Regions from separate parts of the Homo sapiens genome. Here region 2 is linked to region 1. Evidence: fine-mapped expression QTL. Tissue or cell type: whole blood. Region 1 holds a variant in brackets; the other region holds the start of a gene. All regions are shown on one strand. Distances are between the middles of the regions.

Region 1 (5,150 bases):
AAGTCAATCTAAAAGTACTAATATGAAAAGACCTTTAAAACATTGAATTTTTTTTTTTTTTTTTTTTGGATATAGAGTTTCGCTCTTGTTGCCCAGGCTGGAGTGCAATGGCACAATCTCCGCTCACCGCAACCTCCGCCTCCCAGATTGAAGCAATTCTCCTGCCTCAGCCTCCCGAGTAGCTGGGATTACAGGCAAGCGCCACCACGCCTAGCTAATTTTGTATTTTTAATAGAGACGGGGTTTCTCCATGTTAGTCAGGCTGGTCTCAAACTCCCAACCTCAGGTGATCCACCCACCTTGGCCTCCCAAAGTGCTGGGATTACAGGCTGAGCCACTGCGCCCGGCCAAGACATTGAATTTTTTTTTCTCTTGAGACAGGGTCTCTCTCTGTTGCCCAGGCTGGAATGTAGTGGCACAATCTTGGCTCAAGGCAGCCTCGACGTCCAGGGCTCAAGCGATCTTCCCACCTGAGCCTACTAAATAGCTGAGACTACAGGCACATACCACCATACCTGACTAATTTTGTTTTTTTTGTTTTTTTTCAAAGACGGAGTCTTGCTCTGTCGCCCAGGCTGGAGTGCAGTGGTGTGATCTCAGCTCACTGCAACCTCTGCCTCCTGAGTTCTAGCAATTCTCCAGCCTCAGCCTCCCAAGTAGCTGGGACTACAGGCACACGCTGCCACATCTGGCTAATTTTTTGTATTTTAATAGAGACAAGGTTTTACCACGTTGCCCAGGCTGGTCTCGAACTCCTGAGCTCAGGCAATCCACCCGCCTCGGCCTCCCAAAGTGCTAGGATTACAGGCGTGAGCCACCCCACCTGGCAATTTTATTTTTTTTTAGAGACAAGGTCTCACTATGTTGCCCAGGCTGGTCTTAAACTCCTGTACTCAAGCAATCCTCCCGCTTCAGCCTCCCAAAGTGCTGAGATTACAGGTGTGAGCCACTGTACCTGGCCCACTGGATCTTTAAACAAGATTCAGAACAATATTCACTCCAGGATATCATCCATGTAAAATAAAATACAACTTAACACATTACATGTCTTCTGTAGCTACACATAAATGTATATAAATGCATTTAAATAAATCTGGAGGTAAACATATCACCTGATAGCTAGTGATTTCCTGGGGGTGCTTAAGAAGGAATTAGCTTTTGTCCACAGTTTTTAAAAATTTTATATGAAGAATATATTTGGCCAGGTACAGTGGTTCTTTCCTGTTACCCTAGCACTTTGGGAGGCTGAAGGCGGGAGGATGACTTATCCAAGACCAGCCTGGGCAACATAGCAAGACCCTGTCTTTATGCAGAAAAAAAAAAAGTATCTGGGCATGGTAGCATGTGCCTGTAGTCCTAGCTACTCTGGAGGCTGAGGAGGGAGGATTGCTTGACTCTGAGAGGTCCAGGCTATGGTGAGCCATGATCACACCACTGTACTCTAGCCTGGGTGACAGAGTCAGACACTGTCTCTTAAAAAAAAAAAAGGAGGCCCGGTGCGGTGGCTCACACCTGTAATCCCAACAGTTTGGGAGGTCGAGGCAGGCAGATCATGAGGTCAGAGTTCAAGACCAGCCTCACCAACATAGTGAAACCTCATCTCTACTAAAAATACAAAAATTAGCTGGGTGTGGTGGCACGCACCTGTAGTCCCAGATACTTGGGAGGCTGAGGCGGAAGAATCACTTGAACCTGGAGGCAGAGGTTGTGGTGAGCCAGTATCCTGCCACTGCACTCCAGCCTGGGCAACAGAGCAAGACTCCATCAAAAAAAAAAAAAAAAGGAACTATTATTTATTAGGAAGCGTTTTTTTGTTTGTTTGTTTGTTTTTTGACAGGGTCTTGCTCTGTCACCCATGCTGGACTGCAATGGCACGATTTCAGCTCACTGCAACCAACCTCTGCCTTCCATGCTCAAGCAATCCTCCTCAGCCTCCCGAGTAGCTGAGACTACAGGCGTGCACAACCACACTCGGCTAATTAAAAAAAAAAAATTTTTTTTTTGAGAGACTAGGTCTCACTGTATTGCCCAGGCTGATCTCAAACTTCTGGGCTCAAACAATCTTCCTGCCTCAGCCTCCCAAAGTGCTTAGACAGTAAAGCTTTTTATAATAAAACCAAAATAACTCAGAACCATATCAAACAGAAAGTAAAAGTCCATGTTAGCCCCATCTCTCCAATTAATAATTATTAACAATTTGTTTTATATTCTTCCATACCTTTTTTCTAAATCTAATAGATAAAAAGGATCCTATTTTATTTACCATTTTTTAACTTGGTGTTTTTTGTTTGTTTGTTTGAGACCGAGTCTTGCTTTGTTGCCCAGGCTGGAGAGCAGTGGCGTGATCTCGGCTCACTGCAGCCTACACCTCCTGGATTCAAGTGATTCTCCTGCCTCAGCCTCCCGGGTAGCTGGGATTACAGGCATGCGCCACCATGCCCAGCTAATTTTTGTATTTTTAGTAGAGACAGGGTTTTCCCATGTTGGCCAGGCTAGTCTCAAACTCCTGACCTCAAGTGATCCGCCTGCCTCAGCCTCCCAGAATGCTAGGATTGCAGGCGTGAGCCATCGCACCTGACCTAACCTGTTTTTTTTCTATTAGTAATATATTGTGGACATATTTTCATAATCATTCATAGTGAGCTACTAATTTTTTCTGCCTAGTTGCATGTCATTCCATTGTATACATGTGTTGTAATTAGTCCAACTGTTAAAATATAAGCTCCATGAAAACAGGGCTTTTTCAGATTTATTTGCTGCTCTATCCTTAGGGGCTAGA[A/G]CAGTGCTTGATGCTTAATAGGCACCCAACAAATGGGAATTAATTAATTAGTCAACTACTGATAGACAACTGGTTTGATTGTACCCCAGTACATTACTATTTTCACACTACCATAATTATTTCCTTGAGATAAATTCCTAAAGATGAAACTGCTGAGTCAAAAGGGATGCATATTTTAAAATGTTGCAACGTGTTGCCAAACTCCTCTGTATTTAGCTTGTACTATATTATATTCCCGCCCATCTGTCGATGAAAGCACCTCTGTTCCCCACGGCCTCGCCAGTATAAGTATCATTCATCTCTGATGTAAGTTGTGATAGGATAGTCAACTGTCTGTAAATGTTGTACGGGGGAATTGGAGAGTGGCTATTTTGTGAAACTGGGCAGAATGCACACAGTCTACCAGATCTACTTGAGTAATTAATGTAAACAAAGAATGCATCAGTCAAGGGAAGGAAAGAGAAGACATGTTCAAATTAGGTCATGAAAGGAGGACTTGTTTGATTTTTTTTTTTTTAAAGGCAGGGTCTTGCTCTGTTGCTCAGGCTGGAGTGCAGTGGTGTGATCTCAGCTCACCGCAGCCTCAACCTCTCAAGGTCAAGCGATACTCTCACCTCGCCTCCCAAGTAGCTGGGACTACAGGCGTGCACCACCACGCCCAGCTTTTTTTTTTTTTTTTTCAGTAGAGATGGGGTTTTGCCATATGGTCCAGGCTGGTCTCAAACTCCTGGACTCAAGCGGTCTGCCTGCCTCGGCCTCCCTAAGTGCTGGGATGACAGGCATGAGCTACCACACGCAGCTGAAGGAAGATTGAATAGAGGAACTCTACAAACGGAGGGCAGAAAACCGCAAGGATCCACAGGACTAATTAGGCTGGCTTCTGTTACCACCCCTATGCCTGAAAGGCCAAGGGGAAGAATGACCACTGTACCCTAGAGACTGAGAAGCCTATAGAGAGAGGGCCACCGAGGTGGGAAATGTGACTTTAAGGCAGCCAGCACGCAGAATGACCGCAGAGAAGCAGCCAGAGAATAAATGCCCCAAGCCCCGTCTCCTCCCTTCCTCAATCATCTTCTGGGGCTCCCTATTGGTCAAAACCAATGGGAAGCCAGAAGACAAGGGAGCCCATCGAACAGTGTATACACTTAGCCTCCCAAGACACAAGGCGTACACCAAGTGTTCGATAAATGCATCATTGAATTTAACCCTCACAATAATCCTTCAAGATAGTTGTTTACATTCTAATGGAAAACTGAGGCTCAGAGAGATTCATTAACTTGTCCAAGGTCACCAGCTAGTTTTGGAGGCTCCAATGCCCTGGGCTCATATGTGCTATGAAGCTTGGAACTGAGAGCAAGGAGACCCCATGACGAGCACAAACTCTTATCAGATACTGGAAGCCCCCAAAACAGCTCTAGTGGCAGGAAAAGGCTCTCCTGCAGTTTTTTGGGTTTTGGTGTTTTTTTGTTGTTGTTACTATTGTTGTTTTTGAGACAAGTTCTCACTCTATCACTCACTGGAGTGCAGTGGCACAATCATAGTTTACTTCAGCCTCAACCTCCTGGGCTCAAGCAATCCTCCCACCTCAGCCTCCCAAGTAGGTGGGACTACAGGCATACACCACCATGCCCAGCAATTTTTTAAATTATTTTGTAGAGACGGAGTCTTGCTATGTTGCCCAGGCTGGTTTTAAACACCTGTGCTCAAGCGATCCTCCCACTTGGCCTCCCAAAGTGCTTGGATTACAGGCATGAGCCACCGTGCCCAGCCCCTATCCTGCAGTTTTTATGACATGTGAGATGGTAGCTCAGGCAAGGCTCAGCAGACAAGCCACAGCTGTGTTCATCACCAACATCAGCCACCCTCTTCCCCATGGGAGGTGGTAGAGTGCCGTGCTAACAGCCCAGATTCTGGAGGTAAACTGCCCGAGTTCAAGTCCTGTTTCTGCCACCGACTAGCTGTGCAACCTTGGGCAATTTCCTTAGCTCTTCTCGCTGTCCTCAGTTTCCTCATCTGTAAAGTAAGGACAACCACAGGCCTCAGGACTTAATGAGGTAAAATAAGGAGAGTGCCCTGCACCTAGTGAGCCCTAGCAGGTATAAAGGTATTATAGGCATCGACACTAACTCACAGTGAACTGTTGCTTCCCAGTCTCTCTTCCCCTTCAAAGGTACTGATGTGTGAGCTCTCCCTAATTAGACTCTGCACCCTAAAGCCAGGAGTGTCTTGTCCAAGCCTCAGTGAGCTTCTTAACAGAGTAGTAGTAAATAGTTTAGTCTTTGTGAATCAAACATCTTTGTCACCACTATTCAACTCTGCCATTGTAGTGCAAAAGCACCCATGACAATCCTTAATGAATGGGTGTGACTGT
Region 2 (5,150 bases), 48 kb after region 1:
AAAGAGAGCTGGGAGAAGGAGGAGAGCCAGTGGAAGGTGCTTGTGTTGAACAGTTTCCCAAGAAAGCATTGTTGGGAACGAGAGCAGAAAAATGGAGCTGGAGAGGAATGACGCATCAAGGGAGTTTTGGGCTTTTTGCTTTTTAATGAAAGTTACTAGAGTTTGTGTGGTGATGGGAAATATTCAGTAGAGAGAATGATTACTTAGTAAAAAGAAAAGATAGTAACAGGAAAAGATCCCTTAGAGGGTCCCACATAAGGAATCAGTGCTGATCTTATATTGTCATTTTTCTTCGATGTATGCACCAAGTTTAAGTAAGAGATAATTTAAAAGTGACTAGCATGACCTCATATAAAACACTCTACATTGCAGCCCAGGAGGGCTCAGATGGGATGTCCAATCACTGTCAACAAACCTTCTGGAAATCACATCTTTTTTTTTTTTTTTTTCCCTAAGGTGGAGTTTCACTGTTGTTGCCCAGGCTGGAGTGCAATGGTGTGATCTCAGCTCACTGCAACCTCTGCCTCCTGGGTTCAAGCGATTCTCCTGCCTCAGCCTCCCAATTAGCTGGGATTACAGGCATGCACCACTATGCCTGGCTAATTTTTTATTTTTACTACAGGCCGGGTTTCCTCATGCTGGCCAGGCTGGTCTCAAACTCCTGACCTCAGATGATCTGCCCACTTCGGCCTCCCAAAGTGCTGGGATTACAGGCATGAGCCACCGCGCCTGGCCAAGAAATCATATCTTATTAGCTTTGCTGGAGCTGGGAATTAGTTCCAGGCTTTCTCAACCTTGGTGCTATTGGCATTTTGGTTCAGATACTCCCGTGTTGTAGGGGACTGTCCTACGCATCGTAGAATATTTAGTAGAATCCCTGGTCTGTAGCTATCAGATACCAATCAGTAGCATCCAGTGTGACAACCAAAAAGTTCATTGCTAAATGTCCCCAGGGGTAGGGATGGGGGCAACATTGTCCCAATTAAGAATCACTGAGTCATTAAAACCTAAAAAAGTCTAATAAAAAAAAAATCAGCCAATCTTAACAGCTGTGCAAATGTTGATAAATATGACTGTTTTCATTGCCTTATGTTGTTGTGAAAAATTATTCCTAAACCTGGTATGAAAGCATATTGTGCCATTACGTATATGTTCATATTTTTAAACTCCTAATGAAACACCATAGTAACTTTTAAACATTTTAAGTAGAAAGGATTATGAAAGAAAAACAAATATGTGTGTAGGTAAATGAACCTCAGGGATGATAGCAGGAAAAGGAAAGTCACTAGCATTTATTCGGTGCCCACTACATTTTATATTTTGTAAACCTGATTTTTTTTTTCAAAAAAGTGTTTTTTATATGCTCATCGCAAAAAAGAAAAAAACAGATACACTAAAAGAAGAAAATGAAAAAAAGTCATAATCAGTTAACGTTTTGGTGCATATGTTTCATGACTTTCTGTGCATTCATTCACTAGCTTAACCTATCGGAGAGGACAGGAACCCAACATGTCTAGGGAAGTTTTGTTTGTTTTTAACGGGAGAGATTCAAGCATGTTGTAAAGCCAGTTGAAGCTGGGCGCGGTGGCTCACGCCTGTAATCCCAACACCTTGGGAGGCCGAGGGGGGCGATCACCTGAGGTCAGGAGTTCAAGACCAGCCTGGCCAACATGACGAAACCCCGTCATTACTAAAAATACAAAAATAGCTAGGCGCAGTGGTGCGTGTCTGTAATCCCAGCTACTTGGGAGGCTAAGGCAGGAGAATTGCTTGAACTCGGGAGGCGGAGGTTGCGGTGAACGGAGATCGCGCCACTGCACTCCAGCCTGGGAGACAGAGCGAGACTCCGCCTAAAAAAAATGATAATATAATAAAAAAATAAAAAAAAAAGCCAGTTGAAGAACTTAGGTTAGAAAAAGGAGAATGGGATGATCCACAGAGTGGGGTTTCTGAGAAAGTAAAGGTTATAGATTTTAAGCACAGAGGAGGAATTATCTTTAAATTAGAAGAAAAAGCTTGATGAGAGGTTGGAAAGAACACACGCAAGTGAAAATATGTATCTTACTGTATCTACATGTATGTGTATTGTTGTATCTACCTGCAGATATGTATGTCTTATTGTATCTACATGTAGGTATGTATGTATACTTTTAATGTACACATATGCATCTGTGTCTACATATATACATATCTTAGTCTATCTACATGTATGTATCTTACTGTGTCTACACTAAGATGTTTCTTACTGTGTGAGCTACGTTGGAACCTGCTTTTTCATTTATTCTATTGCAACCATTTCCTCCATGCCGGGATTATTCCTCCACATCATTTTTACAGTGTCCTAATACATGCCAGTAGCTGTTTTTGAAGCCATCTAGTAGCGCTGGACATTTTGGCTGTTTGCAATTTTTCACCATCATCAATACCACAGCTTAGTATCTCGAAGGTGAAATATTTGCAGATACCCAGAATTATTTCCTGAGCAGAAAATCCGTGCAGGCGGAACTGCTGAGTCAAAGGTCGGTGGATAAAAATCGCTTTTAAGCCTCACAACCCGCCTCAGGTATGCATTCTTTACCTGAGGAGGAACAGAGAAGCAGAGAGGTTAAATAACTGGCCCAAGGTCAAAAATAATTAGAAGTGGCTGAATTCAAAAGCCGCGCGGGCTCATCAGGCTGCAGTTGGGGTAAAATTTGCGTTTTAGGCAATTTTTTTTTTTTTTTTTTTTGGCGTGTGTCAGTGGGGGAGGGGCCGGGCGGCGGGTAGGAAACTTGTGTCGCAGCAAAGAAGGAGGAGGAGGGGAGGGACTCCCCTCCTCGGTCAGACCGGAGCCGGCCGCACCGAAAAAGGTTGGACTCGGGACTCCGCAGGCCCCCCCAGCCACTCCGCGGGGCGCCTCGGAGGCTGTGACCTCCAGGGAGGTCCGGCTGGGTGCAGCGTGACACGCCGGGGCGGTTGCCAAGGACCTGCCCAATCTGCGGGTCCAGTTGCTAGGGCCTCCATCTTGGGGGCCAGTGGCCGTGGCGCCCCCGGAAGGGGTTGCCGAGTGGGGCATTCACTTCCGGTCTGGGGCCTGCGGCGGCGGCGGTGTCGGCGGCGGCGGCGGCGGCGGCGGCGGCGGCGGCAGCGGGTCGGTGTAGAAAATGGCGCTGGTGCAGCGGCTCGGGCCTCTCCCCGCGGCGCTGCGGAGGGCTTGAGGCTCGCGAGCCTCCTTCGCCGCGCCCCACTTGCTCGTGCACTTTACACACATGAGGTGAGCGGAACAAGGGCCTCCCTCCGGGCGGGAGGAGCCGCGGGCGCTGCCGCAGGGCCCGCAACCCGCGGCGGCGGCAGCAGAGGCGGCGGCGCCGGGCGTCCCCGAGACTTCGGGCCTCGGCGGGAGGGCGCAGGCTGCGTTGCTGCGGAGGCCGAGCGGGCGGCCCGGGGGAGCCTCGCTGCGCCGCGCCGCGGGGGCCAGGCCGGGGTTGCGCCTCGCCCGCGCCGCGGGACCGCAGTCCGGGCTGCAGCCCCGCAGCTTTGTGAGTCCCCCTCCCCCCGTCCTCTCCCCTCCCCCATCCGGCCCCGGCGCGAGCCTCTGCCGCAGCAGCTCCGTTTTCACGCGCATCTCGTTTTTGTGTGTGTGTTTTTGTTTTGTTTTTGTTTTTGTTTTTTTGTTTCAGAGAATTGGAAGCTAAAGCTACCAAAGACGTAGAAAGAAATCTTAGCAGGTAAGATGGGCGAGCTTTCCGTCTCCCGCCCCACGATAATCGTATATTTCTACTCCGATTCGCCTTTTCTGGGTTGAGAAGTTCCCCCGTGACATTTTCTTCCGCACCCGGAGAGCAGACATTCGGGAGAAGCGGCCTGGGGGAATACTGGAGGGATTGCGGGGAGATGCGTAATTACGCGTGTGTTTCTTTCTTTAAAAAAAAAAAAAAAAAGCGCAAAGCAATTCTTGTAAACTTAGTTAAAGCATTCTCACCCTTTTAGAATTTAATTAGGGGACTTGTGCATTAATTACTATTGTAAATGGTTGCAGGCATTGTGTGACTCATGATTGAGGCGGCCCTTATGGCGGGCTGTCAAACTGTTTTGGCTTCCCCGTTATTACTTTGTAGCTCAAATTGTTGCTTTTATAAAAAGATACTATGTGTTCGCATTCCCCCCCGCCCCCCCCCCCCCCCCATACATTGTAGTCAGGCGGATTCTGTTGCATTGGACACAGTTTTGTCCTTGAACTTTACCAAGCATAAGCTGCGTTTTGTTTTCCTTCGAAACTCCATTTCTGTCCATGTTCGGTGTGTGCTCTTTTTATCAGCTGGTAAAATAATTAAAAATCTTTTCTCCAGAAGAGGTTATCGTTCCTGTTGGGCCCTGCTGCTTTTGCATCACCGTGAAGGGAGAATTTTTTTTTTTTTTTAAACGATGTCTTTATGGAATGGAAATATTTAGCTTCATTGAGCTGTAATTGCTTAAGCATCAAGGAATTGTACTGTATTTAACTCCTTTTCACATTCATTTTCTTTCCTACCGTCTTTTCCTTTCTTATTCCCCTTTTTCTTTTGCATCATATTGGGACACTCAGGGAAACTTAGCCAATTAACCAAATCCGTGAATAGCTTTCTTTTTTTCTTTTTTTTCACTTGTTGAAAATAAAATGAAATTTCTCCTATCTCAGGTTTTAATGTAGTTTGCTCTTGATGATTGCGGGTTTTAGGTTTACATTGGGGTTTTTAACACTCACATTTCAAATCGTCTGAATATTTTGCACCGCGTAGAATTGTTCCAAATTGCTGGCCTATTGAGTTTCATAAGATACTAATCTGTTCAGGTGATCGTTAAAGAATGTGTTCAGATGGTGAAGGATAGGCATCATTGGTTTACCCAGTAAGGGATTCTCTGTTACTCAAAATAATTATGGGATCATTTAAAGGAAATTAAGTCTGACATCACTGACTATTTGTGGTATATTTACATAAATTTTGTCAAAATCTAGTAAGGAAATGTTAAGATATGAAACCATTAAAGAAAACAGGTTGAGCCATTAAGGTGTAATATCAGCAGAACAGAGCTTAGAGGTCTGTTTCTCCTTCCATTTTTGTTTTATCAGGTAACTATATCAGTATAATTCCTATGAAGGTGCTCTAGTACTTAATTAAAAATTGTCTGTG

Evidence for each region. PIP is the estimated chance that this variant, and not a neighbour inherited with it, causes the effect.
Region 2: it holds the start of TNRC6A, and the variant in region 1 is fine-mapped to the expression of TNRC6A in whole blood (INTERVAL, PIP 0.90).

The regions. Positions count from the first base shown.
Region 1 is chr16:24,678,948-24,684,097 of GRCh38, forward strand. It overlaps a transcript of TNRC6A not described here. Among named protein-coding and RNA genes, the nearest start is that of LINC01567, 10 kb to the left of the region's middle. RefSeq lists an enhancer at 4,807-5,150. The variant A/G (reference allele first, on the strand shown) is at 2,780.
Region 2 is chr16:24,726,594-24,731,743 of GRCh38, forward strand. TNRC6A (trinucleotide repeat containing adaptor 6A) reads left to right here and starts at 3,058. Exons shown (of 25, transcript NM_014494.4): 1 at 3,058-3,253; 2 at 3,660-3,707. The coding sequence starts at 3,249. RefSeq lists a silencer at 3,087-3,396.